Homo sapiens: one gene and its partners. The protein of the gene in region 4 purifies or fractionates together with the protein of the main gene of each other region. This does not show direct contact. Each region holds a gene or a part of one and is shown on either strand. Other genes may lie near its edges.

Region 1 (7,442 bases), on a different chromosome or scaffold from region 4:
CACGAGTTCCAAGAAAGATAAATAAAAGATCCATACCTAGCCACATTGCAGTGAAACTTCATGATACCACAGATAAAGAGATTTTTTTTTTTTTTTAGATGGAGTTTTGCTCTTGTTGCCCAGGCTAGAGTGCAATGGTACGATCTCTGCTCACTGCAACCTCTGCCTCCTGGATTCAAGTGATTCTCCTGCCTTAGCCTCCGAGTAGCTGGTATTACAAGCATGCACCACCATGCCTGGCTAATTTTTTTTGTATTTTTAGTAGAGTCGGGGTTTCTCCAGGTTGGTCAGGCTGGTCTCAAACTCCTGACCTCAGGTGATCCTCCCGCTTCAGCCTCCCAAAATGCTGGGATTACAGGTGTGAGCCACCATGCCCGGCCAAACAGATGATTTTAAATGAAGCCAGAGAAGTTAAATCATATGCAAAGGAATAATTAGACTGACAGCAGACTTTTCAATAGCAACAATGAAAGTCAGGAGACAATGGAATAAAATATTAGAAGTGTGAAACAGTTCTCTCCCTGGCTAAAGTATCATTCAGGAGTGAGAAAAATGTAAGACATTTTATATAACTGAAAGTATCCACTTCTAAAATATCCTTGCTGAAATAAATTTTAAAAGTTCTGCTTCAGGAAGAACATTGAACCCAGAAGGAAGAAGAAAGAGGCAAGAAAAAAGAGTGAACAAAGATAGTGGTAAGCACATTGGTAAATCTAAACAGCATAGATTGTATAAAACAAAAACAATGACTTCAAATATCAGGAGAGAGTCTTAAAAACAAGATGTAACTAAAAAGAACAATAATTACACACAAGACAGAAGGGGAAGAGTGTGATTAAACTCATATTCAAAAAGCTTTCTATCATTTGCGAGAAGATCAGAAGTAGTAATATTAGATTCTATTAAACCAAATATGTGTGTAAAATTACAGAGTAACCCCCAAATGAATAAAAAAGGAAAGCATAACTTTCAAATCAGTAGATTCATGATTATGATAGAGATTGTCAGACTGGATTCAGCAGCAACAACAAAATCTAGCTACATGCTCTTATATGACACACATCTGAAACATAAATATACACAAAGTTTGAAAGTAAAAGGACAGGAAAAGATATATCAAAGAAATACTTGCCAAAATAAAGTTAGTGTAGCTGCAGCAATATCAAACAAAATGGATTATAGACAAAGACTATTATTAGGGATAGTGTTACTTTCTAATAATAGAATGAACAATTCTCCAGGAAAATACTACAATTCTAAATTTGTAAGCACACAGCCTCCAAACACATGAAGCGAAAATTCTCACAAATTCAGGGAGAAATTGACAAATGCACAAACTTGATATGAGATTTTAACACCTCTTTAGTAACTGATAGTTCCAAATGCAAAAAGATGATAAACTATAGAAGGCATAAACCACATGATTGATAAGCTTGATTTTACAGCTCTAACTAGATCCTACACCAATATTAGAATATATGTACTCTTTTAGGCAAACATGGAACATTTTCAAACATCTATTGCACACTTGGCCACAAAGCAGTCTCAGAAAATTCTAAAAAATCAACATCACTTACTACATTCTCTGACTATAAGGCAAAACTCAAAAACAAAATAACTCATAAAAAGATTCGTATTTGGAAATTAAAAAGTACTTTTAAATAATCTCATGGATGGAAAAAGAAATAATAATGAAAATCAGAAAATATTTTAAAGTTGCAGCCATTTTCACATGGAGGACTGGCCAGCACAATTTGCCTTTAGATTCATTTGGGAAAAGTGCCGACTAGTTCACCAAAAGTCAATTCACAGAATGACCAGATAGCCAAAAGCCAAATATGGTAAAAGCTAAACCACTGAATATCAACTTGCTAAACAACCAATCTGAATTATTGAAATTTTTTTTTTTTTTTTTTGAGACAGGGTCTTGCTCTGTCACCCAGGCTGGAGTGCTGTGGTGTGATCTTGGCTCACTGCAACCCCCCTCTGCCTCCTGGGCTCAAGAGATTCTCCCACCTCAGCCTTCCAAGCAGCTGGGACTACAGGGGTACACCACTGCACCTGGCTAATTTTTGCATTTTTTGTAGAGATGGGGTTTCATCATGTTGCCTAGGCTGGTTTGGAACTCCCAGGCCCAAGCAATTCACCAGCCTTGGCCTCCCAAAGTGCTGGGATTACAGGTGTGAGCCACCGTGCCTGGCCCCAGCCAAGGAATTTTTAAAGATGTGTTTCAGCTCCACTCCTGCCTTTGTCTGTGTCCAGAGCCATCCAATAAACCTGGTTCAGGACAGGTCTTCACAACTATTTTTTAACGCACACACACGGGCTGAGGTAAATACAGGTCTACAGGGTCAAAGGCGCAACTAAAATTTGGGGGATAGGGGTGCCAGGAAGTGTCTCCATAATTTAAATAATTGGCCATGCAGCAAATTTCATGTTGGTGAACTGCTTTTAGCGACTGATGGTCCACAAATGGGGCAGGAAGCCTAGCCAGGAAGTGGACGTTTGAGTCAAAGAGGTGCCAAGAATCTGCACAGCTTAAAACAAAGGTGCATCTTACTTGGATAGAGATTTCTTTCTACAGGTGTTTAAGTTTAAGGCAGGGGTCCCCAGTCCCTGGGCTATGGACCAGTACCAGTCCTGGCCTGTTAGGAGCTGGGCAGTGCAGCAGGAGGTGAGCTGCGGGCAAGCCAGGGAAAGCTTTATCTGTAGTTACAGCCACTCCCCCTTGCTCGCATTACCCCTGAGCTCTGCCTCCTGTCAGATCTGCAGGTGCTGGATTCTCATAGGAGCCAGAACCCTGTTGTGAATGCGGGATCCAGGTTGCGGGCTCCTTAGGAGAATCTAATGCCTGGTGATCTGAGTTGGAACAGTTTCATCCCAAAACAACCCCCCTCCCAGTCCATGCAAAAATTCCCTTCCACAAAACCGGGCTCTGGCCCAAAAGGTTGGGGACCCCTGATTTAGGGGGTTTTAACGTTTAGGGATCCCGGGCCGGAGGGTGGGCGGTGGAGAGGAGCTGGGAGCAGGAACACATTACTGTAAGGAGCCCGCCTCACCTCGGCACGGAGGTGGGACCCGGCCTAAAGCCCAGGAGGCGACTTACCCTGAGGGCTGTGGCCTGTAGGGCTCTTGAAAAGTTGGACTTTTAAGTTTTCCCTTTCCGCGAGGTGGGGCCTTGTGATATCTTCAAATCCTTGTTCAGCAGGCTGCGCACACGCCGGTCCTGTGTCTAAGGTGTCTCGGGTATGACCGAGGGGGCTTTGCCCGAGTGGGCGTGCGCCTTTCCTCGGAGGCCGGGACGAGGGGTTGTCGGCATCGTACCCGAGTCCGTGATCATGGCCGGCGCGGCTGCAAGGGCCAGCCCCGGGCGACTGGGCGAGGAATTCCCTTTCCTTCCCTCCGATATTGCCCAGGCAGAGCGCTGTCTGGGCCGCAAGGTCTGGACGGGGCTTCCAAACTCAGAGCAGAGTCTCCTCTGCGTGGGACCACAGCCTCCCCTTCCCCTCCAAGCTTCTGTCTGGCACAGCAGGCTTAGCCCCGCAGGCCCCCTTCCAGCAGCCTTCTATAAAAATGACGGGGTCCTTCTCCAGACAGGAAAACCAGGCTCGCTGCGCCTCGCCCGCACCCCCGGAGCGCTCTCGCAGCGCCCGCCCAGACCAGGCCTTCGAACTCGTGAAGCGCAGGGGGAGGCAGAGGAGAGTGGGCCGCGCTTCCTTCCCGCATCACACGTTTATTTGAGGCCTACTATGTGCCAGGAACAACTGGGGTTACCACCCCAGCAAACAGGCACGCAAAATGTGACACGAAGGTAGGTCATGGCTGCGGCGAGCGGGGGCGCGGGCGAAAGACGTGAGGATGTACGGGGGCCTGGCAGCTGCTCTGTCCCACCCACGCCCGGCCGGACCCTCGACCCCTTTCACTCCAGGTCGGGTTTCCCCGACCGCGGCCTCTGGGAAAGATGGGTCCCTCTTCATCCCCACCATCAGCCCCTGGCACATGGGACGCGCTGAGTGGTGGCTGCGGGAATGAATGAGTGATAAGCGGCGCGTACCCGCGGGCTTGCACGCCCACAGCCGCCCCGGCTGGTCTCGGCGCGCAACCTCTACCCGCAGCTGGGGGCGGGGACGAGGGGAGGGGGCGGGGACGAGGCCCGAGCCAGGTCCGCCCCGCCCTGTCTCCGCCCCCCGCTTCCGAGCCGGCGCCGCGGCGCCTTCTGGGAAGTGTAGTCCGCGTCTGCGCCGGCCGGCCGGGCCGCCGAAGCCGGGGGCTCCGGGCGGAAACGGCACCACCCACCAAGGGATGCGAGGCGCTCGGGGCGGGCTCAACGAGGCCGGGGGCGGGCCCGGGCGCGCCCACCCCCGCCCCTCCCCCTCGGCCCAGGCCCCCGGCCCCGCCTTCTCCTGCGCGGACCTGGGCCGCCGCCGACGAGGGTCGCGTGCGCCCGCGCCAGGGCCCGCGCCGGAAACCGAGGAGTGGCGGGGAGGCTGAGCCCGGGGATGGCGCGCCAGGTAAGGCAGGCGGACGCGCGGACCCCTCGGCGCAGTGCGGCCCCGAAGGCGGTAGGGCGAGAAAGAGCTGGGACCCCCCCGCAACTTCGGGATCGGCTGGGTGAGGCTGGGCAGGCCTGATGCTCAGGGGTTCGTGCCGGGAAGTTCAGGTCCTCGGACAACCTCTCTCCAGCTCTCCGCCGCCGGTACCCACGGCCCAGTCTCCACCTGGGGAAACCCCCTTGGCGTGGCTTGTTTCGTTACAAGTTATCCTGGTAGAGTGGGCATGAAGGCCTCGGAGGCAGTGAGTAAATCTCATACTTCTGTTCTTGGTGGAATCCTGGATCCCGGGGGCTGGGGACGTGGAAATGGGGAGAAACAAAGATAGAACAAACCCCAAGTTTTGTCTTGGGAAGCCTGCAGGTAAGGCGTTTAGATCTGAGAACTGGAGGGAGAGCCCCAGGCCGTGACAGCCTGGGCACCGTTTGGGCTAGGTTGTGTGTGGGCTGTGACGATGCTGGGAAACTCTGGTGCTGATATCAGTGAGGTATCAGGTATCTGGTGCTGATACCAGCAACTGCTCCACGTTCTTCTGGATGGGCACCTGGAGCCAGTTCTGCAACCGTGGTGGCTCCTGAGCTTTGGCCAGTCCGAGGCAGCCATGGATGGGGGGCAGCGTGTGACTAGGCAGAGCAAACACTGTGCCAGGCCCTTGGCGTCATTAGTGCCCCCAAGCATTTGGGGAGAAGGGAGAGGCTAGGCAAATTGGATGTTGTTGGGCAGGGACAGTCAAGTGTCCTTTTCAGGTCTGGCTGCACAGTTAAGTAGCCTAGGGACACCCTGGTTCAGACATGCCCATGGCCCCATCCTAAGGCCTCCTCATACCACAGTTTCCTGTTCTGTAAAGTGAGGAGTTTGGGCCATTGACCTTTCAGATCTGATGAGGGGAATATCCTCACACTACGTAGCTTCATGGAGAAGGTGGCCAGGAGTGACCTTGGGGAGTGGTAGGTCACTGTAAGGTGGAGAGGAGCAGGGAGGGTTCCCAGAAGCCCAGGGCAATGTGAGCACAGCCTCCAGGTTGAGAGGTCCTGTGGCAGGGTCTGATCAGGGAGCCCGAGCCTGAGGCCCACTGGGAGAGCAGGTCTAGGTTGGGAAGGACTGTGAGAGAGGGGCAGGTCCAGCAGGCACTGAAGCTGCAGTTTTTGTGCTGGGCTAGTGACACGGTGGAAGGGTGATGTTAGGAGGACCAGTGTGCAGCTATGAGCTAGGAGGCTGCCCAGTTACAAGAGTCCTGGGTCAGCCCAGAAAGCTTTTCTCCATTGGTTGGGGGAAGGAGGTGAAGTGGGGCCCGAGGAGGAAGGCCGGTGGTGTGTGGGCAGAGCCAGCCAGTGGTGGCCTTCCTCCTCCCGAAGATGAGTTTTGTAGCCCAGGTGTTTGCACACTCACACTTGCTCACTCCCTCACACACAAAACCCTCACTCTTTGCTTTTTCTGGGGAGAGGGAGGCCACTGGCAGAAGCGCCTACCCTGGCCACAGTCAGTTCCCATTCTCATTTTCTAAGAATTTTATCACAAAACAGTTTGTCTTGAGGCTGAGATGGTGAGAGGCCTGGAAAGCATCTCTTACAGATTCCTGGAAGAGCTGGGATATATTTAGTCTGGAGCGAGAGAGACACCGGTGGTCAGGAGCAGTATGTGGAAGAGCTCAGCTGGCAGGCTCAGACCTGCAAGCGGGCATTAGGCAGACAGGTCTGGCTGCAGTATTACTAATCATAGCACTTAATATTCATAGTCCCCGCATTTGTTCTAGGCACTATTCCTGTATTTGTTTTGTCTTCACAATACCTCTATGAGGTAGGTTGTTATGATCCCAGTATTACAGATGAGTTCACTGAGGCCCAAATAGGTTAGGTTTGGCTGAGGTCTCATAACTAGTATGAAACAAGGCAGGGATTGGAATTCTGGCAGCCTGGCTCCTGAGGCTAGGCCCCAGTCACCGTGCTCTGCCCCGGTCTCTGGGTCCGGAACCTCTTAATGGCCACATCAGGTCAGCAGTGGTACCAGTGCAACCAACATAGCTGGTATCATGTTCTTACCTAGAGCTCAGACCTGCCTTGCCAGCTCTGTGTTGAGCCATCAGAATGTCATGTGGGAACCCTCTGCCTGCCATGAACCAAAATTCCAGACTCCCAGAAGGAAAGCAGGGGTGTGGCACACACCACGTCATTTGCTCAGCCTAGGCACCTTGAGCCACTCCCATCATTTAGGGAATGGTGGGAAGCCTCCTGACACCTAAATACCTGGAAGCCAGCCTGAGCCCTCCTGGCAAGCAGGCCTTCCTAAGGACAGCGGTCTAGGGCTGCTCTGCACGCTCTTCTGCATAGACCCTGATGTTGGCTACATTTTCTCTGTTCCAAGATGCTAGGAAGAAATGTAAATAACTCTTTGAGAGAAGTTTTGGAGGGTGTCTGAGACTGTTCCTGAGAGGGAGTGACCATACCTGGGCCAGAGCCACAGAGGTTTGCTCAGGGAGAGTCTGCACATCGAGGCAGGAGGCAAAGGCTGCAGCATCTCACTGCCCATCAGCCTCTGGGCCTCCGGGCCTCAGGCAGGCAGTCACGGGAGGGGCTGCCCCTTGCCAGGGGTGTAGATGCAGCCTGGCCAGAGGGGAGCACTGGTAAGTGTGACTGCATGGGACAAGTTATCAGCTGTTCAGGGAGAACAGGCAGAGAGCCCGGCAGTAAGTGGACAACAAGGCTGCCGGTTAGTGGCAGGGACAGTTTTTTGTTTTTCTTGAAACAGGGGCTGGAGTACAATGTTGTGACCTTGGCACACTGCAAATTCTGCCTTCCAGGTTCTCCTGCCTCAGCCTCCCAAGTAGCTGTGATTACAGACACCCACCACCATGCCTGGCTAATTTTTGTATTTTATTAGAGATGGGGTTTCACC
Region 2 (7,132 bases), on a different chromosome or scaffold from region 4:
GCTATGGAAAGGGGATTCTTCCACACAAAAAACCTGGACACAGATGTTTATAGCAGCTTTATTCATAATTGCCAAAACTTCGAAATAACCAAGTTTTCCTTCAGTAAGTGAAAGAGTAAATAAGCTATTCCATACAATGGAATATTATTCAGTGCTAAAAGGAAATGAACTTTGAAAAAATATGGAGGAAACTTAAATGCATATTACGAAGTAAAAGAGGCCAATCTGGAAAGTCTACATACTGCCTGACATTCTGGAAAAGGCAAAACTATGGCGAGGGCAAAAAGATGAGTGGTTTCCTGGGGTTGGGGGCTGGGAGAAGGAAGAAGGGAAGAATTGGTGAAAGAGGATTTTTAAGGCAGTGAGACTGCTCTGTATGATACTGTAACGGTAGATACATTTGCCCAAACCCGTAGAAAGGATAACACCAAGAGTGAACCCTAAACTATGGACTTTGGGTGACGATGATGTGTGAGTGTAGGCTCATCACTCGTAACAAATGCACCACTCTGGTAGAAGATGTTGATAATGACAGGAGGCTATTTATATGTAGAGGCTGGGGGTGGGGGTTATATGGGAAATCTCTGTACTACAGCTCAATTTTGCTATGAATTTAAATTGCTCTAAACAAAGTCTGCTAACAAAAAGAATGTCTTAATATTTCAATATTTGAAATCACACAGTATGTTGCATTTGCTACCCCTACTATGCATGTATATATGTTTATATGTGTGCATATATCTGTGTACATATACACATGTGTATATAAATATGTTTGTGTATATGTGTATTATGGGTGGAATATGTTAGCACAGTATGTGATGTATATGTCACATATGATTTTACATATGGATGTATGTGTATATTTGTATATATGTGTGTGTGTGTATGTGTTGAGCATTCAGTATATACTAGGCTCAGTACATGAGACTTTACTCTTGTCAACTTCCTAAGACTCCCACGAGGTTATCTTCCCCATTGGACCTTTAAGGAAGAGGAGAAGGTGAGTATCAAGGCTGAGGTCCACGCACATTGAGTCCCACTGCTTGGATACATCTGTATCTAGAATTCCTGATGACCCCCTTATGACTGCCTGATGCACCTGTATCTTTATCTTCAAATCCTGGAGGAACCCTCCTTTCCACTGTTGCTTCTCAGCAGTATGTAAAAGGACCGTAGAGCCCAGTGCTCCTGCCAGAGAAGATATGACCAGGTCTTGGAGCCTCACTCGTGGGAAGCTGGTTTAGTAGGTACCTTCAGTGTCCTGGTGGGAAAGGCTTGAATCCAAGTGAAGCAGTGACAGGGACATCAGACTTGATAGACTTTTGTGAGGAGAAAACAGCTTCCTAGGCTTTCTTTGGGATTGATGACCACCCTAGCCTGGCCGCTATAATTTTTGTGTTTTTCTAGATGCTGATTGGTTTTCCTGTGCATAATTCTCCAAAATAGAATTTGGACCTCTAGGGATATTCTTACCACTCTTCTCAACTCTGGAATTTTGGAGAAATAATAGGTTTCAATCTTTGGGTAAATCAAGAAAAGCCAGTAAGAAATGTCACTGCCCACCCTGATGTTTAGTTCATGTTGCTCAGACCAAGTTATTCCTGGATTGCAAAAGCTGGCCCAGGAGGCGTCATCTCATGGCTTTCTTGAAACAGCTCTTCTGCATTCGGTGGCACCAGTCCCTCAGTGGAAATCTATAAACAAGTCTGTGTTTAGAATCAGATTGGAAGGATTGCTTGTCCTTTCTTGTGAAGAATAAATGAATGAATTAGAGCATCCCCTGTACCTTCTAAGGTAGCAAACACATCTAAATACGGTGTAAGATTTAACCAATGGCGGACACGTCTAAATGGAGCTTAGGGGCTGAGTTAACAAAGAACAGAAAGCCAACTTGTTTTGTAGTAAAGAGCTAAAATAGGAAAGACTAATAGGTTATGTTGATTTCTATTTAAACAAGCCATTTTACTAATTTCTGATTGGGTGTGAAAGCCTCAAGCTGTTTTGAAAAGAAATAGCTATTTGCTGGTGGTGATTTCTTACTCTTCCCATGTGTAAATTTAGAAAACTTTGGATTTTTATTTTGCTTTCCCAAAGTAGCATCTAAGTAACAAATAAAAAGCCTCATTTTTTTTTTAGTTCAAAATGAAAAAAGAGTCAGAAGGAGAAAGTGAGAAAATCCACCCCCACCACCATATTTCAACTTCTTTCATTTTCTACTGAGAGAAAATTCATTATCTGATCTCTGATTTCATTTATTTCAGTGTCTGCGCTGTGCACTTAGTGGAGCTGGCTTTTACCAAGATTATATTCTGACAGGGTGATGGGGGCCGGGCTGTGCGTGAGCATTTGCTTTGCAAGGAGAAAATGTGTTTCCCCCTCCCTTTCATTTCACTCCTAAAGCCAGTGGTGGAAGAGGAATTTGCTGTTCTCAGTTGATCTCTCTCTATCAGGGCCTCCCCTTCCTATGGCCGCACCCTCTGTGAATGAGGAAAAGCGGGGAGCACAACTGTTTAACCTGTCAGAGCCAGTTCCCTGATTATCCATGCCAAATGTTTTCCGTTAGAGAAGGAACTTGGTGGTCCAGGAGGTTATGCAGACTGGCCATTCTAGAAGTGGCTGTCTCAGGGTGTGGCTGTGGCTATGGGGCAGCAGGTGTGAGGGGATTTTGAGGAATCTCTCTCCAGAAGCAGATCAGGATATCGTGGTAGCAAGGTGTGTTTTAGAATTTATTTTTATTAACCAAAAGCCTACATTCTACCTTAGCTCATTATAACCGACGCAAGGGCTTGATTGAAAATGCATTCTTCCCCAACTTTCTAACCCGGGAGCACTTAGTTGCTACTGCTCACTGAACGTGGCTCATCGGGATGCCTCATGGAAAAGGGCTTGAGCAGAAAGCTGATTCCAGGTGCTGCTGCACAAAGGGGAGGAGTTGCCTTCCAAGCACTCACACCTGGATCCATAAAAGTCATTTTACTTACCACTGCGAGGCCCTGGGAAGTTAAACAGACATGTGCCTGGATCTTTAGAGTGACCGATTTCCCATTTCTAAGCAGACTTTTGCAATGGGTCTTCTTCCTTACGGACAGCTCTGCCATGTGCATGATCAGGCTTCCAGACCAGACAAATTTGGGATTGTATTCTTTCATTCTGTTCTGTTCTGTTCTTTTCTTTCCCTTTCTTTTTTCTTTTCTTTTCTTTCTTATTTTTATGCAACACCATGCTAGTAAGAGGTAAGTTTTAAATGGTAACATTAATATTTGGGTCAAGTGGAAAATACAATTGTAGCAACCACTTTAAGCCCAGTTGCCTGTTATTTAGAATTTCTTCTCATGGAAGAAGCCATAGGTTGACCTTTATTTTACTATTTTGGAGTGCAATGAAGTTTCTCAGAGATCAATTTATTTTCCCAAACAATTGCATAGCGATGCTCTGCCTGCATTATATCATGCTGATTTTAAAATAATAGTACTAATATGTATTTGCCTGCAGTTTTTTCCACAAGGCTCCTTTGAATTCACTTAAAATCTTACTTATTTTCTTTCAGAGACAGCCTCTGCCTGTGGAGATATTTGTCTCATGCATACCCCTTGTATCTGGTTTTCTTTGTACCCAGGACTTCCGCCTTATCTAGTAGCCCTACGTATCCGGACCTGCCCTTCATTAGGATCTCCCCACACCGGAACCCCACTGCTGCTTCCGAGTCTCCCTTCAGCCCTCCACATCCCTACATTAATCCCTACATGGACTATATCCGCTCCTTGCACAGCAGCCCATCGCTCTCCATGATCTCAGCAACCCGTGGGCTGAGCCCTACAGATGGTAAGTCCAGGATGGATTCTGCTTCTGGAGATCATGCAGCCTCCTCCCCGCTCCTCACTCGGGACGTGTATAAAGTAGACCTGATGTTTAGTGAGTGTTTCCCATGTGCCAGGCGCTGTGCTCTGTGCCTTACATGCATGATTGCGTTTCAGTTTTGTAACACCTCATTGGCAGTGGTGTTATTATCTCCATTTTCATGTCAGAATAGCAGCGTGCAGTGGGGTTTACTTGCAACGCAGTCAATCCCATGGCTAGTAAGGGGCAGAGGTGGAATTCATTGAAAATGTTTCTGATTCCCAAATCCCTGCTGGTAACTAGGGTTCTGTTCTGCTGCTTCACATATGATTAGACTGGTCCTGTAGCCATTCACACACGTGCATGTGTAACATGAGTGTTTTACTCACCTTCTGATGAACACTTTTCTGTTCTGTGTGTCTGAGCACATTTATACAGATGCGTCTGTTAGAGGAGGGCTTCCCAAACTCTAGTGTGTCTATGAATCACCTGGGGAGCCTGATAAAACGTGATTCTGCATCAGGTGGGATCAGGTGGGGCCTGAGATTCTGTGCTCCTCAAAAGCCGATGATGTCAGTGCTGTTGGTGCCTGGACCACACTCTGAGTGGCAAGGTCTTAGAAAACATCATGGTCCAGGGCTGTTGCCTGTGCTTTCTATTCTTGACCATGCCACATGAAAATCCGAAGAAGTATGTACTGGGAAAGGAAATGAGCTTAGACTTTCTTATACTTGTTGCTCATTTTAGGCTCTTAAGGATCGAATTCCTGTTGGTTCTGTTAGTCCCCCCATTACTTTCCACATGACTCTTCTTAATTGGAGCTGTGTATTCTCCTGGTGTCAACTTATAAACTGGTCCTTTGATTCAGGAAAAGTATTTTCCATATCACGCACACATAGGAATTCACTTGCCCAATAATCACTGGAATCTGAATCAAGGTCCAGAATTGCATCACCTATTAATTACAGGTAGCAGGCTCTGAATTCTTTGCAAGAGATCGCAAATCACCACTGCCTGTTCCACATCAGAGAAACACCAGGCATTTCATTTCACTGAGCAGTGCTTGATGCGACTTCCATGCCCTATCCACATTCTCTAGGTAGACGCCTTCCTGAGGCTGGGTGTGCATGGTGAGAAGCTGCATGAAGTGTCTCAGGAAACATCCACTCACTTGGGTTTTCAGAAATAGCTTTCCTTCAGTAACAGCCACTTTTTTCTTTTTTGATTCAGTGCATTGAATTTACTGGTTAATAATAGTAATACAGGTAGCTAAAGAATAAGTTTTGCCCTTTGGGCAGGATTAACATTTTATTTTATTTTGAGAAAGGGTCTCACTTTGTTCCCCAGGCTGGAGTGCCTTGGTGCAATCTCAGCTCACTGTACCCCAGACCTGCTGGGTTCAAGTCATCTTCCTGTCTCAGCCCCCTAAGTAGCTGGGACCACTGGTGTGCACCACCACGCCTAGCTAATTTTTATATTTTTTGTAGAGACAGCGTTTCGCCATGTTGCCCATGCTGGTCTCAAACTCCTGAGCTCAAGCGATCTACCCACCTCTACCTCCCAAAGTGCTGGGATTACAGGCATGAGCCACTGTGCCTGGCCAAGATTCACATTTTAAAAATAAAAATCAAATATGAATTAGATTTTCTGCTTCAGATTTTATTTTGCACTTGAAGAACTGGAGAATCATCTCCTTCAAGTCCTTGGGAGTTGGTGGAAATGACTAACAAGGAGAATAGACTGAGGGAGAGAGGGAGGCTAGCTGACAATGGACTTGGAATTATGCCTGGCCTGCAGAAATTTATTCGGGCTAGTGGAAAGTCATACCACGAGTTAAACTACTGAAAGCACTCTTATCATCTGCTTTGTGTAGCATTTGATGACGAGTATATATATCACATTCTTTGACTGGTTCATTTGCCTTCCTTTTCTTGCCTCTCAAGAATCCAGTTAATATAATCAAATAAAGTAACATGATAAATATTTCCCTTGTGGCCTAAAGTTTTTTTCCTTAAATCTCTATCTTTACCATGTATCATGGATAAAAAGTATATGAAACAAATATAAAATACCCACAAACCTATCACTAGAGTGCTGGTATTTCTAGATAATAATCGTAAAACTTTTATTGATTGAATGCTATGTGCTAAGTGTGCTACATACATAATTTAATTTTTGCTCCTGACGACCTCATGGAGCCAGTTTAAATCCAGATCTCTATGAGTCTGGAGGCCACCCTCAGAACTGCTACAATGTCTTGCTGCTTTTGCACGAAAATTGGCAGGTGGAAACCGACTATTATCCTGTTAGAAAGCTGAGTCTTGGCAGTAAATTGCTCCAGATTGATAGGTATATTTTCTTTTTGATTTTGTAATGAAGAAAAGGAAAAGAGAGCTTTTAAATTATGGAATGTAAAATTGTAGCTTATCATTCAGTTGTGTTATTAAAGCTGTGCTGCCTTTTTTCATACTGGTAAACCCTGACTTTTCATGTGAGTGAGAGTTAACTCAGACACTCTTGTCAGAAAGCTTAGAAAAGTATTTTAAGTATGTCTGGAAAGATATCATAGTCTTCTAAGTTGTCTACTATTGTAAGAAATGCAAACATACAGTGATTTGATATAAAAATGATTTTATTTGGGGGGCAAATGTGGTTATGTACATATATACATTTTAATCATTCTGATTTGTTGATAATTTCTTAGACCAACAACAAAAACTTAGTAATGCATTTCACTTTTTTCTATTCCTTTCCTTCAGTTTTATTTTCAAATAAAAGATGTTTCATGGAAGTAAGAGCACAATTTGAGTTAAAGGAGCTTTACTCTAATAAGCCATAAAAGGAATTGCTGATGTGGGTTGTGTAATGGACTCTGAGATGCCTCAAGAGAAACTTCTAGTTGACCTTCTTTCGCTAGTAACCATACATCTCTTGTCTCCTCCTAGCGCCCCATGCAGGAGTCAGCCCAGCAGAATACTATCATCAGATGGCCCTGCTAACTGGCCAGCGCAGCCCCTATGCAGACATTATTCCCTCAGCTGCCACCGCCGGCACGGGGGCCATCCACATGGAATATCTTCATGCTATGGATAGTAAGTGACGGGGCTGGTTTCTAGAGTCTTGGGAAATGGCAAAGGCAACTTTATGAAACAGAGAAGAAGATACAAAGATTAGGTGATTGTGTAACTTTTTGATCTGGAGGAGAAAGTGGAACCACCACTATCTGGTGCTCTGGTTCCCTTCGTTTTCTAGAAGCTTCCACAGATTTGGACATCCTGAGACCCCCTGTTTA
Region 3 (7,923 bases), on a different chromosome or scaffold from region 4:
GATTATAGGTACCTGCCACTGTGTCCAGCAGAAAAATCATATTTTCTTTTCTTTTTTTGAGGTGGAGTCTCACTGTGTCACCCAGGCTGGAATGCAGTGGCAAGATCTCGACTCACTGCAACCTCCGCCTCCCAGATTCAAGCGATTCTCCTGCCTCAGCCTCCTGAGTAGCTGGGACTACAAGCGTGCTAAGGTAGCCAGACTACCATGCCCAGCTAATTTTTGTATTTTTAGTAGAGACAGAGTTTCACTATGTTGGCCAGGCTAGTCTTGAACTCCTGACCTCAAGTGATCCGCCTGCCTCGGCCTCCCACAGTGTTGGGATTACAGGTGTGAACCACTGCGCCTGGCCAGACTCATATTTTCTTTCTTTCCTTTTTTTTTTGAGATAGAGTCTCCTTTGTCACCCAGGCTGGAGTGTAGTGGTGTGATCTCGGCTCACTGAAAACTCTGCCTCCCGGGTTCAAGCTATTCTCCTGCCTTAGCCTCCTGAGTAGCTGGGATTACAGGCACCCGCCACCATGCCTGGCTAATTTTTTTATTTTTAGTAGAGATGGGGTTTCGCCATGTTGACCAGGCTGGTCTCGAACTCCCGACCTCAGGTGATCTGCCTGCCTCAGCCTCCCAGAGTGCTGGCATTAACAGGCATGAGCCACCACAGCTGGCCTCAGAATCGTATTTTCTAATTAGTTATTACTGGTGTATAGGTAATATTGGTAATATTAGGATATTACCATTCCAGTCACTGAGCAGGGAGTGTCTAGGCTCAGTTCTTGTTTAAAGGCTGTCAATATTTTTATCTTCCCACCCACATGGCACATTCCCATGAAACTTAGCCCCAAGCAGAAGGCTGGCAGTAATTTGTTCAGCTCGCATGTAGGGACAGGCATGTCCTTGGCTTTAAGCTAAAAATCTGTCCCAGGTCCTCCACCTCCTGAGGAGCACTTACATTTCCATTATCTCACAGGAGCCAAATCTCTAACTGCTACCCTTGATTCTAGACTCATTTCAAAGCCCATGAGGTCCATGGGGAGGTGGTTATCTCGTTTCAGAGTGTATTAGCTGTTTTGAGCTGCTGTAACAAAATACCGTAAGGCTGGGTGGCTTCAACAACACGTGCTTATTTCTTACAGTTCTAGAGGCTGGAATGTCCAAGACCAAGGTGCTAGCCAATTTAGTTCCTGGTGAGTGCTCTCTTCCTGGTTTGTAGACACTGCCTTCTCACTGTGTGCTTGCATAGCAGAGAGAGGGCATGGGTGTCTCTTCCTCTCTTTATAAAGACACTATCATCATGGGGGCCCTACCCTCATGACCTCATCTGACCCTAATTACCTCCCAAAGGACTCTTCTCCAAATAGCATCACATTGGGGGTTAGGGCTTTAACAAATGAATTTGGAGTAGTGGTGGGGGAAACACAATTCAGTCCATAGCATACATCCTAGTCTCCTTACTTTTCTCTTTTAAGGTTTTATATGTCATTGCGGTATGTCTACTATGGGGTGGTATGTGTGTATGTGTGAAAGCCTTTACACATTTCACCATCTTCATCAGAAGTCTCATAAAAATTTCTTGAATTGATGACAGACAACAGGGACGGTACGTTAACTGGGTTCTTCCTATTGTCTCTGGAGTTTCAGCAAAGGCCTCAAAAATAGAAGGCAATACAACAGATGCCAGGTACTCCCATTCCCCCATCTTAAAGGGTGATGATAGAATATGAACTAGTCTGCCAGCATTACTAATCATCCACCCTCAGTCTATATAAGAGAATGAAGATTGTGTCGGACAGTTACCTGTGGGCTCTGTATTTCCTCTCCTGCCACTCTGGGGCGGGAGAGGGGAGCCAAGTGAGATAAAGCCTTCTACTAGAACCTCTTAGAATGTTTGGCTTGTGTCTCCTGGAGTTTGGAGATCCACAGGGATAGTGTCTTAACCCCTACCTGGGGGAAGTCCAAAAGCAAGATGCTGGCTAACTGTGCTGGGATGGTGAATAAGGTGGGAGCCATGGGGAGTGAGCTGCACTGCCTTCGCCACTGGGGCAAAGATGCATGAGTTATCCTGTGAGCCAAGTGGACACACAAGCTAACGAACTTGGAGTCATTTAAAAGAGATCCTTCCCAGGCCGCGTGCGGTGGCTCATGCCACCTTCCCAGCACTTTGGGAGGCCGAGGCGGGCGGATCACGAGGTCAGCAGATCGCGACCATCCTGGCTTACACGGTGAAACCTCGTCTCCACTAAAAAAAATACAAAAAAATTAGCTGGGCATGGTGGCGGGTGCCTATAGTCCCAGCTACTCGGGAGGCTGAGGCAGGAGAATGGCGTGAGCCCAGGAAGCGAAGCTTGCAGTGAGCGGAGATCGAGCCACTGCACTCCAGCCTGGGCGACTGAGCGAGACTCTGTCTCAAAAAAAAAAAAAAAAAAAAAAAAAAAAACAAAACAAAATAAAAGGGATCCGTCCCATGAGAGATAACCAGAGAGGAAAGGGACTCCTGCCACGGGAGTGAGTTTTACATGGGGTAAACCTCCTCCAGAAGGCCAAAGACTTGGGGGAGGGGAGTCATAGACAGTGAACCAGAGGAGGACCACTGCCAGCAAGAGAGTTCTAAAAAAGCCCACAAAGGTGCATAAGAGAGAAAAGCCAACATTTGTGATTCCTCCTTGTCCATAGGGAACCGATTTTGGAAGGTAACAGCATCCTGCACTAACCAGGAAAGTCTGTGTTCTTTCCCTTCAATCCCTTCTCCTCCTGGGAGGAGGGGGTCAGAAATAGCAGCTAGCCAGTGGGAGAGGAGGAGCAAACTTTGAGGAGCAAAGGCAGGGATGTGGAGAAACCTACCATACCACTTTTAATATAGCAAGCTTCAAGTCTGAAGCAGGTAAAAGCAGGGGTAGGGGAGAACCTTTAGCCTGAATAAAGTTTAAAGTTTTGTTCTGTACTATATATTTTCTACTGCAATATGACTACTGTCATGACTGAAAAATACTTGAAAAGTGAAAGGATCTGCAAGAGATTTCATGCAGGATACAGAACTATGCATAGAGCAAGTGTGAAGGGGAAGCAGAAGAGTTTTCTGATTATACACCGTGTCTCCCCCTGTCTTGAAACACCCCAGCTCCTTTGATAAAAATATTCAGTATTAGAAATGGGTTGAGGAGTAAAAGTTGATACAGAATATAACAAACATGATTTAAAATTTATTGACTCCAAGTATCTATACACACTGATTTACATTTTTTTCACATTTATTAAGTCCCACCAAAAGTATGGGTAACCAAAATCCATATATACTCTAATAAAGACAGGGCATACACCTCTGGCATATTTTTATTATTTTTTTCATTAAAATGTTATTGGTTTCTTATTTTATATAAATTATATAAAATGTGAAGCTGGGTAAAAGTAGTCAACTAGTAAAAATTTTATACATTTTTACTGAGTATATGCCATTATAAGAACGTATGGAAATGGATATATATATATATGGATGTATTTTTTGAGAGAGGGTCTCACTCTGTCACCCAGGCTGGAGTGCAGTGGCATGATCACAGCTCACCGCAGCCTCAACCTCCCGAGTAGCTGGGGTACAGGAACGTGCCACCACACTCGGCAAATTTTTTTTTTTTTTTTTTAGAAATGGAGGTCCTTCTACGTTGCCCAGGCTGGTCTCGAACTCTCAGGCTCAAGCAATCCTCCTGCCCCGGCCTCCCAAAATGGTGGGATTATAGGCGTGACCCTTTGCGCCTGGCCCACTTTTGTATTTAGGATGCAGGGCCCTGAGATTGGCATCTAGGAAAATTCTGGACTTAGGCCAGGGGAGGGGGCATGCCTGGATCTCTTACAAAAACTTGCCACGCCTCCAGTTGGTCATGATGTGGGCCCCTGGTAATGAAGGACCTCCACCATGACCACAAGTACTTTAGTCAGAAAACAGCTCGAAAACGTGTGAAGAGAGTCCACCAAACAGGCTTCGTGTGAGCAACAAGGCTGTTTATCTTACCTGGGTGCAGGCGGGTTGAGTCCGAAAAAGGAGTCAGCAGAGGGTGGTGGAATTATCATTAGTTCTTATAGGTTTGGGATAGGTGTACAAAGTACATTCTTAAGGGCGGGGGAGAATATTACAAAGCACCTACTTAAGGGCAAGGGGGAGAATATATCCTGTCAGTTAGGGTGGGGCAGGAACAAATCACAATGGTGGAATGTCATCAGTTAAGGCTATTTTCACTTCTTTTGTGGCTCTTCAGTTGCCTCAGGCCATCTGGATGTATACGTGCAGGTCATAGGGGATATGATGGCTTAGCTTGGGCTCAGAGGCCTGACAACGTCTATTTTGGGTTTGATTCTGGCCCACCACCTCCACCTCGTACTTTCCTATCCTCAATTTCAACCTCTAGAAATTAGGCAAACTGGAAAGTAAACTGATGCGGGTCGTGTTGCTTCAGCTGGGGACAGGATTTCGGTGGGCGCTCCTGCCGGGGTCCGTAACCTCCCACACAGCTAACGTTTACAGGCCCGTTTATATTATCACGAATGGTTTTCAACCATTTCGTGTCCATCCCTAAATTAAGAGGCTTGAGGGGCGGCACGAAAGAGCGAAGACACCTCCGCACGGTCTCCAAACCCCTAAGTCCAGAGGCCTGGAGCATCCCCGGAAAACCAGATCCCTCTCCAGAGAAGCCCTTCCTTCCGCTCCGCCCACCCCGCGCGGAGGCCACAGGGGTCACGTGGCGGCCGCGGGAGGGGGAAGTGGGCGGCTCTGCGGCCGCCATCTTGAGGATTCGGAGGCGGGGCGTGCAGAGCTCAGGGCGCGCGCTTCGCTTCCCCTCCCCTCGCCCAGCCTCGCGCCGGCGTCTGTGCTCCTCCCCACTTTTCTTGGTTCCTGCGGCCGCTCCCTGAGTGGAGGAGCGGGGAACCCCGGAGGCGGGGGGGGGTGTGTCGGACGCGTGCTCGCGCCCTCCAACCGCCAGCCGCGGGGGCGCGCTCGGCCGGGCCCCCGGGGCGACGCGGGGCCGAGGGGAGGGGGCTGCTCCCGCGGCTGAGGCGGCGCGCAGCGGCCGAGGTGGCGGCGGCTGCAGCTGCGGCGGCGCGCTCCGAGCCTGCGTCTAGGGCGCCCCCGGGTCAGAGCTGTCGCCGTGGCCGCCGCTGCAAGAACCATGTACCGCAGCAGCGCTCGCTCCTCCGTCTCTTCCCACCGGCCTAAAGACGACGGCGGGGGCGGCCCGCGCAGCGGCCGCAGCTCTGGCTCCTCCTCAGGCCCGGCTCGCCGCAGCTCACCGCCGCCTCCGCCCTCCGGCTCCTCGTCGCGGACCCCGGCTCGCCGACCCCGCTCGCCCTCAGGGCACCGCGGCCGCCGGGCCTCGCCGTCCCCGCCACGGGGTCGTCGCGTCTCCCCGTCCCCGCCTCGGGCCCGTCGCGGCTCCCCGTCGCCACCGCGGGGCCGACGACTCTTCCCGCCGGGCCCGGCCGGCTTCAGAGGCAGCAGCCGGGGGGAGTCCCGCGCCGACTATGCCCGGGACGGCCGCGGAGACCATCCAGGCGACAGCGGCAGCCGGGTAATCCCACCCCTCGTCCAGGACTCCCTCCATCCCCCAGTCCCCTCCCCCGGAATTCCCGTTTCCAGAAACGCCCGGGGCCTCCAGACCAGGGTCCTAAGCGCGAAGCCTCCGGCCAACTCCCTCGGGGATGCCGAGCCTGGAGGCTTCTGTCAGACCCGGGAGCGTTGACACAATAACGGACTCGGGAGCGCACGGGCGTCTCGTCGGGAGTGCGCGCTCCGTTCCTTAGGAATAGGCTGTTTCTCTCATGCCGGGTGAGGTGTGGAAAGTTTGCCAAGGCGAGGGGCATTTCGTCCAAACCGTGTGTCTTGGTACTTTTTGTAGAGTTGATGTGTCCTCGGGGTTCCGTACTTTTCATCCCCTTACACCTGAGCTGCCTTCCTGGATCTTAGGGGAAAAAGCCGAAATGTCCGTTTTTGTGGCGAGTTAGGGACGCTTGAACCCTACCAGGCTTTACGTCTAGAGTGTAAACTGTTAGCTTAAATGAATTGGAGCTGCTGCTTCGGAATGAAGTGTGCAGGACCACAGTCACTGCCATAGCCACTACCTCTTATCGAGTTCTATGTCAGGAATTATGCCTAGCCTTTCACTTTGCACATTATTTTAACCCTCACAAGTCTTTGAAGTGAGGCAGTTAATACTATTCCTTGTTGTACAGCCGAGGAACCAACCCAGAGAGGTTCAAGTAACTCGACTGAGGTGACACGGCTAAGTGGTGGAGCTGTGCTTCAACTCAGATCCGCCTGGTTCCCCAAATCCATGATTTGAACCTCTATGTTTCACTGCTAGAGGAACGGAGCATGAGTTTAAGTTTAGTTTTAGAAATAATGTTGACCTTTAACCATAACCACCACCCCAAGAGATCCTCTAGGTAGAGTCTGGTTTTTGGGAATTTGTTTTATTTTTAGTTCATCAATCTTTTTATTATTATTATTATTTGAGAAAGAGTCTCACTCTGTTCCCCAGGCTGGAGTGCAATGGCATGATCTCAGCTCACTGTAACCTCCGCCTCCGGGGTTCAATCAATCCTCCCGCCTCAGCCTCCCAAGTAGCTGGGATTATAGGCGCCTGCCATCATGCCCGGCCTCTTTTTTTAAACTTAGTAACAAAGTTCTGCTTTTTTGAGTGGCTCTCTAACATGTATGTAAGTACTGTGAGTACTTTGGTCATGGTTAAATTGATTTGTCACTATGTTAAGATTTCCAGTTGAGCAGTGCCAGTGTGGGTGGCAGTCACTACAGAGGAAGGAAGAACAGAATGCTTGTTTACACAACCTCCTTTTCTTCTCCAGTGCGCAATGTATTTGCTCCAGTCTTTTCTGTCTGAGTAAATAGCATCATCCGTTGCTTACATCAGAAACAGCCATTATCTCCCTTCTTCCCACATCTAATTTGTCAGATTACCTCATCTGTCTAACCCGTTAGCTTTACCTCTAGAATACATCCCCAAAACTGCCATCCTCCTGCCATCACTCTGGTCTAAGCCCTATTACCTCTTGCATGGATTGTTGCATTTGGCTCCTTTACACTCCGCCCTTGCTACCCTCCAGTTTGTTCTGGAGGTTACACAGAAATCAAATTGATTTTTAAGCCCTCATTTTATACATTTGACATGTATTTATTGAGCATCTACTTTGCATTAGGACTGTTCTGGACTACCCTGGGGATACAACAAAGTACAAACCAGAAAAAAACTCCTATCCTTATAGAGTTAATATTCTAGCAGGGAGAGTTGGATAATAAGTTGAAGTTAGAAATGCGATGGTATGTTAAATGTAATTAAGTACTAAGAAGGACTAAGAAGTACTAAAATAGGGCCGGGCGCGGTGGCTCACGCCTGTAATCCCAGCACTTTGGGAGGCCGAGGCAGGCGGATCACGAGGTCAGGAGATCGAGACCATGTTGGCTAACACGGTGAAACACCGTCTCTACTAAAAATACAATAATTAGTCGGGCTTGGTGGCGGGCACCTGTAGTCCCAGCTACTTGGGAGGCTGAGGCAGGAGAATGGCATGAACCTGGGAGGCGGAGCTTGCAGTGAGCCGAGATCGTGCCACTGCACTCCAGGCTGGGGACGACAGAGCAAGTCTCAAACAAAACAAAAAAAAAAGGACTAAGAGCAGAGAAGGGAGTTACAGTTTGTGTGCGTGTGTGTGTATGTAATATAGTGTTGCTCTGTCACCCGGGCTTGAGTGTAGTGGTGTGATCATAGCTCACTGCAGTCTCAAACTCCCACGCTCAAGCGATCCTCTCACCTCAGCATCCTGAGTAGCTGGGACTACAGGTGCGTACCAACATCCCAGCTGATTTTATTTTAAAAAAATGTTTTGGTGTGGGGAGGGATTTCACTATGTTGCCCAGGCTGGTCT
Region 4 (7,026 bases):
CCTGCAGGCCCTGAACAGGAAAGGAGCCACTGCCCAGTCCCTGAAGTGCTGTCCAGAGAGGGCAAAATTATATCCTCTTTCAGAAGGTCAGCCCCTTCCCCTTCCAGGGGCCCAGGAAAGCTTGTCTTTGTTTTTCTTACTAATCCACGCAGTGAGCAGCTGTCATCACCCAGTTCTGTCTGATAAGGGTCCCTCCACAGGTGTGATACCGGGAACCTCCAGACCGGTACTGGAGGGAAATCTAGATGGGGAGGAAAGAAAGAAGGGATAGGTTGGTGTTTCTCAAATGGTTTTGCCCCAGGTCGGTTGCAGTGGCTCATGCCAGTAATCCCAGAACTTTGGAAGGCTGAGGCAGGAGGATCAGTTGAGCCTAGGAGCTGGAGACCAGCCTGGGCAACATAGTGAGACCTCGCCTCTACAACGTCAAAAATAATTAAATATAAAAGACTTTGCCTCAAACTACATGTCACCTCCTTAAAGTCCTGCTGTCCTTCAAAACATTCTCTTTCTAGGCTAGAGATGGCAAATAGGTTTCATCTGACCTGCCAATTGCTACTGATTGCTTGGTAGTGGCCACCTGGAGTGTGGCATTGATAAGGGGTGTGTAGATGCTTCTGGGGCCAGCAGGAAGGGATGCTCCATCGCTTGGTGATGTTTGCTGTGTACATGGATGGAGGAGTAAAGGCACACAGTGTATTTGGCATTATCTCTCTAGGTTGTTGCAATGGACCTAGAACCCATTGTAACTCCTTTTTTGGAACTCCTTCTACCTCTGTTCTCCCTTAAAGAGGAACTATAGGCCAGGCACCATGGCTCACGCCTGTGATCCTAGCACATTGGGAGGCCAAGGCGGGTGGATCACCAGGTCAGGAGATCAAGACCATCCTGGCCAACATGGTGAAACCCCATCTCTACTAAAAATGCAAAAATTAGTCGGGCGTGGTGGCATGCACCTGTAGTCCCAGCTACTCAGGAGGCTGAGGCAGGAGAATTGCTTGAACCCAGGAGGTGGAGGTTACAGTGAGCTGAGATAGCGTCACTGCACTGCAGCCTGGTGACAGAGCGAGACTCCATCGCCCCCTCTCCTCCCCCAAAAAAGAGGAACTATAGGCAAAGATTTGCTCCATCACCTAAGCCCAACAGGCTTAGGTCTCCAGAGCTGTACCTTTAGTGTTTTCAAGACATCTCCTGTCTCCCCACTTCAGGGACTACTTAGAAATACCAATGGGAGGCCAGGCGCTGTGGCTCATGCCTGTAATCCCAGCACTTTGGGAGGCTGAGGCGGGTGGATCACCTGAGGTCAGGAGTTTGAGACCAGCCTGGCCAACATGGTGAAACCCCGTCTCTACTAAAAATACAAAAATTAGCTGGGCATGGTGACAGGCGCCTGTAATCCCAGCTACTCAGGAGGCTGACGCAGGAGAACTGCTTGAACCCAGGAGGCAGAGTTTGCAGTGAGCCGAGATCATGCCATTGCACTCTAGCCTGGGCAATGAGAGCAAAACTCCATCTCAAAAAAAAAAAAATACCAATAGGATGTTTGTTTTTATCAGTTCATGTCTCTTCTTCTAGCACCTCATGTTATGTAATAGCTCTACTCCTGAAAACTGGGGCTCAGACTTTTATAAGCTAAAACTCTGATTGCAGTGATATCTTCTCAAAGTGTGGATCTTCATCAGTTAATTTGCCAGGTTTACATATTTAGATCACTTAAATCAGGGCCCAGCTGCCCTGTTAGCAAAGTGGAAACTCTAAATAGCCAACTAAGCAGCATGCTGTACGTGTGTGTGTGTGTGTGTGCGCGCACATGCGTGCAAGCATTGTGACACACACAGTGTGGAGTGGTGTGCGTGTGAGTTTCAAGGTATGTGGAGTCCAAGGTGACTGTCTGGCACCCAGTCTTTCTTGCGTGGCACAAGTGCTGTCGCTGAGAATATAAATGTATCTTGTGTTTGGGTGTGTGCCTTGAAGAGGGACTGTGGTTGGTGTATAAATCCCCTCCTCCAAGCCTTTTGCATTTAGAAAACCACCTAAGCCTGATCCCATCCATCTTTAAAATCGAGAACCTAGACAATTGGAGAGCTGCTTGTTGATAGGGACATGCACAAATACACATGATACCTTATGTCATGCACTGAGCTCTTATTTGGGTGGAAGTCTGGGGCTGGGAAGGAACACCCACCTGAGAGGGCCAGGAATTCCTCCCGGCCTCAGTCCCTCCGACTACGCGGGCATTGGTTTCCGGAAGGTCCTGGGTGCTGTGTCCTTTGTGGGGCAGAAGAAAAGTGAGTGATGACTAAGCATGGGGTCAGCCAGGGGTAGGGGTGGGGGGTGGCGATTGTGCTTTGAGGAATGTTAGCCTTGTCTGCAAATTCACAGTTCCTCTCTAACGAATGAGGGGCCCAGCTGTGAGTTCTCTGAGCCCCTTTTGAAAACAGGGGTGCCTGGGTGCCTTCTGTTTCCCCCAGGTGTTCCCAGAACTCCGGCATGCTATGAAGGACCTCTCTCAAACCACCAGGCTAGGCCCCAGAGGCTCCTTGTGGTCTCCTCTTTGCTCAAGATCACCCTTTGGCCTGAAGAGACCCCCCCCCACTCTTTGACCCCCACCAGCCCCCTAATGCTTTGGCAAGATTCTCCAGGGTTCAGGGCCTGCAGTGCACACCCCAGCCAGGCACCTGCTGAGGAAGTCCTCCTGTCAATGGGGGTGGTGGGGAAGCCCAGGGACCCACCCCACTACCAGATGGGGCTTCTCTCTGCTTTGTGGCCCAGGGACCTGCCACCCAGAGGGGCCTGAATAGCCAGTGGCCCTGACCTTTTCTATCTTGGCCTCCAGGAGAGTAAAGGACGCTCTGCAGGCAGAGCGTCCCACCTGCCCTGGGACAGGGTGCTGGCCTGGACTTAGGGAAAATTTGCTGACCTTCCTGCCCAAGTCCCCCTCCCTATAGACCTCAGGCCACATGATCCACTTACCATAAAGGACCAGGGTTGCGACTGGACCATATCCACTTACCATAAAGGACCAGCATGTTGCCGATGGAGTAGACCACTGCCTTCTTGCTTGGACCAAGCCCTCTTTATACTCCTCTTAGCAGCAAAGCTGACTGTCTTCTTGCCAACTGGCAGGGCTGAGGGTGCAAGGCAGGGAAAATCACAAGTGACATGGAAATACAAATGAAAATATTTCTTTTCAAGTAAACTAATGTATCTGTTATTCAAAGACAGAACAAGGCCAGGGCTGAATTAATCATCTGCTTTTAATTGAAAAGCATCCAACAAACTCTTTTTCAGAAATAAGATGGAGAACCAGGGCTGGTTTTTCTCTAAGGGAGCACCCCTTGTCATCCATCACTCTCTCGTTGTCCTCAGTGGCACCATAAATGCAGAGACTTGCCCTGTGCACTAGCAGCTGGAGGCCAGGGGGATAGTGGAAGAGGGGGGAGTGGTTAGCAAGGGCAAGGAAGACACAGCAACTCTCTCTGCCCAAAGAGGGAGATGGCACATGCCCCCAGGATGCAGGCATAGGTGTAAATGCAGACACAAAAGCCAAATAGATGCAGTGGAGATAATTCTGGGGGAGGAAAGTACTGAGAAACAGGCTTGGGCCCTCTCAGATGGAGAGCCAAGAAGGGGCTCCCAGAGGAGAATATGAGGCAGGGTAGAGGAGGGGATCCTTGGGATGTGAAGACAGTCTGAGGGCTATGAGGGTAGATGGAGGGTGGAGGGCAGAGGGAGAACGAGGGTAGGAGCCGAGGTTCCTGCAGGAGATGAAAGGCTTTGTTCATCACAGTTCGTAGAGGAGAGAGAAGGGAGTTGCGGCCGGGCGCGGTGGTTTACGCCTGTAATCCCAGCACTTTGGGAGGCTGAGGCGGGCGGATCACAAGATCAAGAGATCGAGACCATCCTGGCCAACATGGCGAAACCCCGTCTACTAAAAATACAAAAATTGGCCGGGCGCGGTGGCTCATGCCTGTAATCCCAGCACTTTGGGAGTCGGAGGCGGGCGGATCACGAGGTCAGGAGATTGAGACTACTCTGGCTAACACAGTGAAACCCCGTCTCTACTAAAAAAATACAAAAAATTAGCTGGGCGTGGTGGCAGGCGCCTGTAGTCCCAGCTCCTCGGGAGGCGCAGGCAGGAGAATGGCGTGAGCCCGGGAGGCGGAGCTTGCAGTGAGCCGAGATCGCGCCACTGCACTCCAACCTGGGCGACAGAGCGAGACTCCATCTAAAAAAAAACAAAAACAAAATACAAAAATTAGCTGGGCATGGTGGTGCGCTTCTGCAGTCCCAGCTAATCTGGAGGCTGAGGCAGGAGAATCGCTTCAACCTGGGAAGCGGAGGTTGCTGCACTCCAGCCTGGAGACAGAGCAAGACTCTGTCTCAAAATAAATAAATAAATAAATAAATAAATAAATAAATAAATAAATAAATAGAGAGAGAAAAGAGTTGCAATGTGCCTTGAGGTGGGCAGAGGACCCTTGGGTTGGCCACAAAATGATCAGAGCCACTGCAGGCTCCAGAGCAGAGGACTGTGGGTGCAGCAGTCATGGTAGCAACGCATGGGGTTTGGAATTAGGCAGGGAGAAGCCAGGAACCTAGACAGAAGCAGGACCATCACCTGCCCACCCAGGGCTTTTGTTGCCTAAACACTCCAGAATCCAAGCTTCATGGCTGCAGGGGTGGGAGAAACCTGGAAAATGCTCTTTGAAGGAATCTGCACAGTCACTTTTTCAGTGTCTAGAGCTGTTCAGAGGAGTTGCACTTTGATGCTCAGATAACCTGAAGAGCTTGCTCTCCAGCCTGCCCTCCAGCATTCTGGCACACTCAGGGAAGAGGGGTGAGCTGCGCTAGGGAACCCGGGGCCTCTTTGGTCATTCTCCTCCCGCTTCCCTGCTTCCTCTGGCCTCTAGCCCCAGGATGAGGAGTCCAAGAGGAGGCTTGAGGGCCTCCTGAAGGTTACCTCTTTACATCACAGCAGGGCCAGATCACCTGAGGTCAGGAGTTCCAGACCAGCCTGGCCAACATGGTGAAATCCCGTCTCTACTGAAAATACAAAAATTAGCCAGGCGTTGTGGTGTAGTCCCTGTGCTTGGGAGCTGTAATCCCAGCTCCTTGGGAAGCTGTGGCAGGGAGAGTTGCTTGAACCCTGGAGGTGGAGGTTGCAGTGAGCCGAGATTGTGCCACTGCACTCCAGCCTGGGCAACAGAGCAAGACTCCATCTCAAAAAAAAAAAAAAAAAAATCTTACTCTTAGGGTTAGGCATAGACAATGGCTTAAATTTTTTCTTTTTTTAAGACAGGGTCTCATTCTGTTGCCCATGCTAGAGTGCAGTGGCATGATCTCAACTCACTGCAACCTCCATCTTCTGGGCTCAAGCGATCCTCCCACCTCAGCCCCTCAAGTAGCTGGGACTACAGGTGCCAGCCACCATGCCCAGCTAATTTTTGTATTTTTTGTAGAGACGAGGTTTCACCATGTTGCCCAAGCTAGTCTCAAACTCCTGAGCTCAAGTGATTCACCCACCTCAGCCTCCCCAAGTACTGGGATTGCAGGCATGAGCCACCCGCCCAGCCAGACAATGACTTAAATTTTGAGGCATTGCATTTCTTCTGACATTGCATACCAATTCTAGGAATGAATTCTTTTGAGATAAACACTGGTCGGGCATGGTGGCTCATGTTTGTAATCTCAGCAATTTGGGAAGCCAAGGCGGGAGGACTGCTTGAGGCCAGAAGTTTGGTATCAGCCTGGGCAACATAATGAGACCTTGTCTCTACAAAACATGAAAAAAACATGGTGGCGCATGCCTGTAGTCCCATTACTTGGGAGGCTGAGGTGGGAGGATCCCTTGAGCATGGGAGGTCGAGGCTGCAGTGAGCCATGATTGTGTCACTGCACTCCAGCCTGGGTGACAAAACAAGACCCAGTCTCAAAACAAAACAAAACAAAAAAACAGGCAGAAAAATAAATGTTCGAGGTTGTGGGTTACAGTATAGTTTGTCACAAAGCTTGTTGCAAAATTGGAAAAAAGCTAAGTATTCATCAGTAGAGGAAGACTGAATAAATTGGGTTTAACCCTGCTATGGAATACTATATAGCTTTATTATTTTTTTGAAACAGAGTCTCTCTCTGTCACCCAGGCTGGTGTGCAGTGGCACGATCACAAATTACTGCAGCCTTGACTTTCTGGGCTCCAGCAATCCTCCCACCTGAGCCTCCCAAGTAGCAAATTTCACTTTTTTAAACCTCACTTTTCTAGATCACTTGACTTTTCTCCACAATATTACTTTAAAAAAAACAAAACAAAACAAAATGGAGTCTCTCTGTGTTGCCCAGGCTGAAGTGCAGTGGCACAATCTTGGCTCACTGCAACCTCCACCTCCCAGGTTCAAGCGATTCTCCTGCCTCAACCTTGCGAGTAGCTGGGATTACAGGTGCCCACCACCACGCCCAGCTAATTTTTGTATTTTTAGTAAAGACGGGGTTTCGATATGTTGGCCAGGCTGGCACAGTATTACTTTGGTAATTAAAAATAAGAATAAATTCTGGGACATCTAGCTATTTGTGGCAATGGCCCCAGTACTCTTCATGTGGGAAACAGATCCCCAGAGAGGCCTAGCTCTTTAATGCTAGAGTGAGAGACTCCTAGAGCCGGGAGATAGTAGCACAGGGCTAGCAGCAGGGTTTTAAGAGGTAGGGGCCTTAGGTTAGCTGAGAGTGGTCAGAGGGGTGGGTTTTAAGGAAGAATACGGGTGTTGTTAGGGCCAGGCCAGGCTTGACTAAGGAAAATGCCATGAAGAAGCTAGTTTCTTGTTTGTTTGTTTGTTTTTTTGAGACAGAGTCTCACTCGGTCACCCAGGCTGAAACACAATCTCAGCTCACTGCAACCTCTGCCTCCCAGGCTCAAGCGATTCTTGTGCCTCAGCCTCCCGAGTAGCTGGGATTACAGACGCCTGCCACCACGTCTGGCTAACTTTTGTATTTTTAGTACAGACTGGGTTTCGCCATGTTGGCCAGGCTGGTCTT

What was found.
Region 1: the proteins of CELA1 (region 4) and KRABD3 purify together in Homo sapiens (affinity purification with mass spectrometry; 2 studies listed by BioGRID and IntAct, with this or other methods). This does not show direct contact.
Region 2: the proteins of CELA1 (region 4) and GLI3 purify together in Homo sapiens (affinity purification with mass spectrometry; 2 studies listed by BioGRID and IntAct, with this or other methods). This does not show direct contact.
Region 3: the proteins of CELA1 (region 4) and ZNF318 purify together in Homo sapiens (affinity purification with mass spectrometry; 2 studies listed by BioGRID and IntAct, with this or other methods). This does not show direct contact.

The regions. Positions count from the first base shown.
Region 1 is NC_000007.14:149,710,556-149,717,997, forward strand, and holds the start of KRABD3 (protein KRBA1), read left to right. Parts: upstream 1-4,395; 5' UTR 4,396-4,499; coding exon 4,500-4,511; exon of another isoform or gene 4,512-4,683; coding exon of another isoform or gene 4,684-4,794; intron 4,795-7,442.
Region 2 is NC_000007.14:42,045,184-42,052,315, reverse strand, and holds part of GLI3 (transcriptional activator GLI3), read left to right. Parts: intron 1-3,619; coding exon 3,620-3,825; intron 3,826-6,785; coding exon 6,786-6,932; intron 6,933-7,132. UniProt on the Homo sapiens protein: Has a dual function as a transcriptional activator and a repressor of the sonic hedgehog (Shh) pathway, and plays a role in limb development.
Region 3 is NC_000006.12:43,366,596-43,374,518, reverse strand, and holds the start of ZNF318 (zinc finger protein 318), read left to right. Parts: upstream 1-5,096; 5' UTR 5,097-5,131; coding exon of another isoform or gene 5,132-5,153; coding exon 5,154-5,552; intron 5,553-7,923. Other genes in the region: atherin-like, read right to left, coding at 4,398-5,096, 5,132-5,155.
Region 4 is NC_000012.12:51,343,613-51,350,638, forward strand, and holds the start of CELA1 (chymotrypsin-like elastase family member 1), read right to left. Parts: upstream 3,068-7,026; 5' UTR 3,027-3,067; coding exon 3,011-3,026; intron 2,266-3,010; coding exon 2,183-2,265; intron 242-2,182; coding exon 141-241; intron 1-140. UniProt on the Homo sapiens protein: Serine proteases that hydrolyze many proteins in addition to elastin.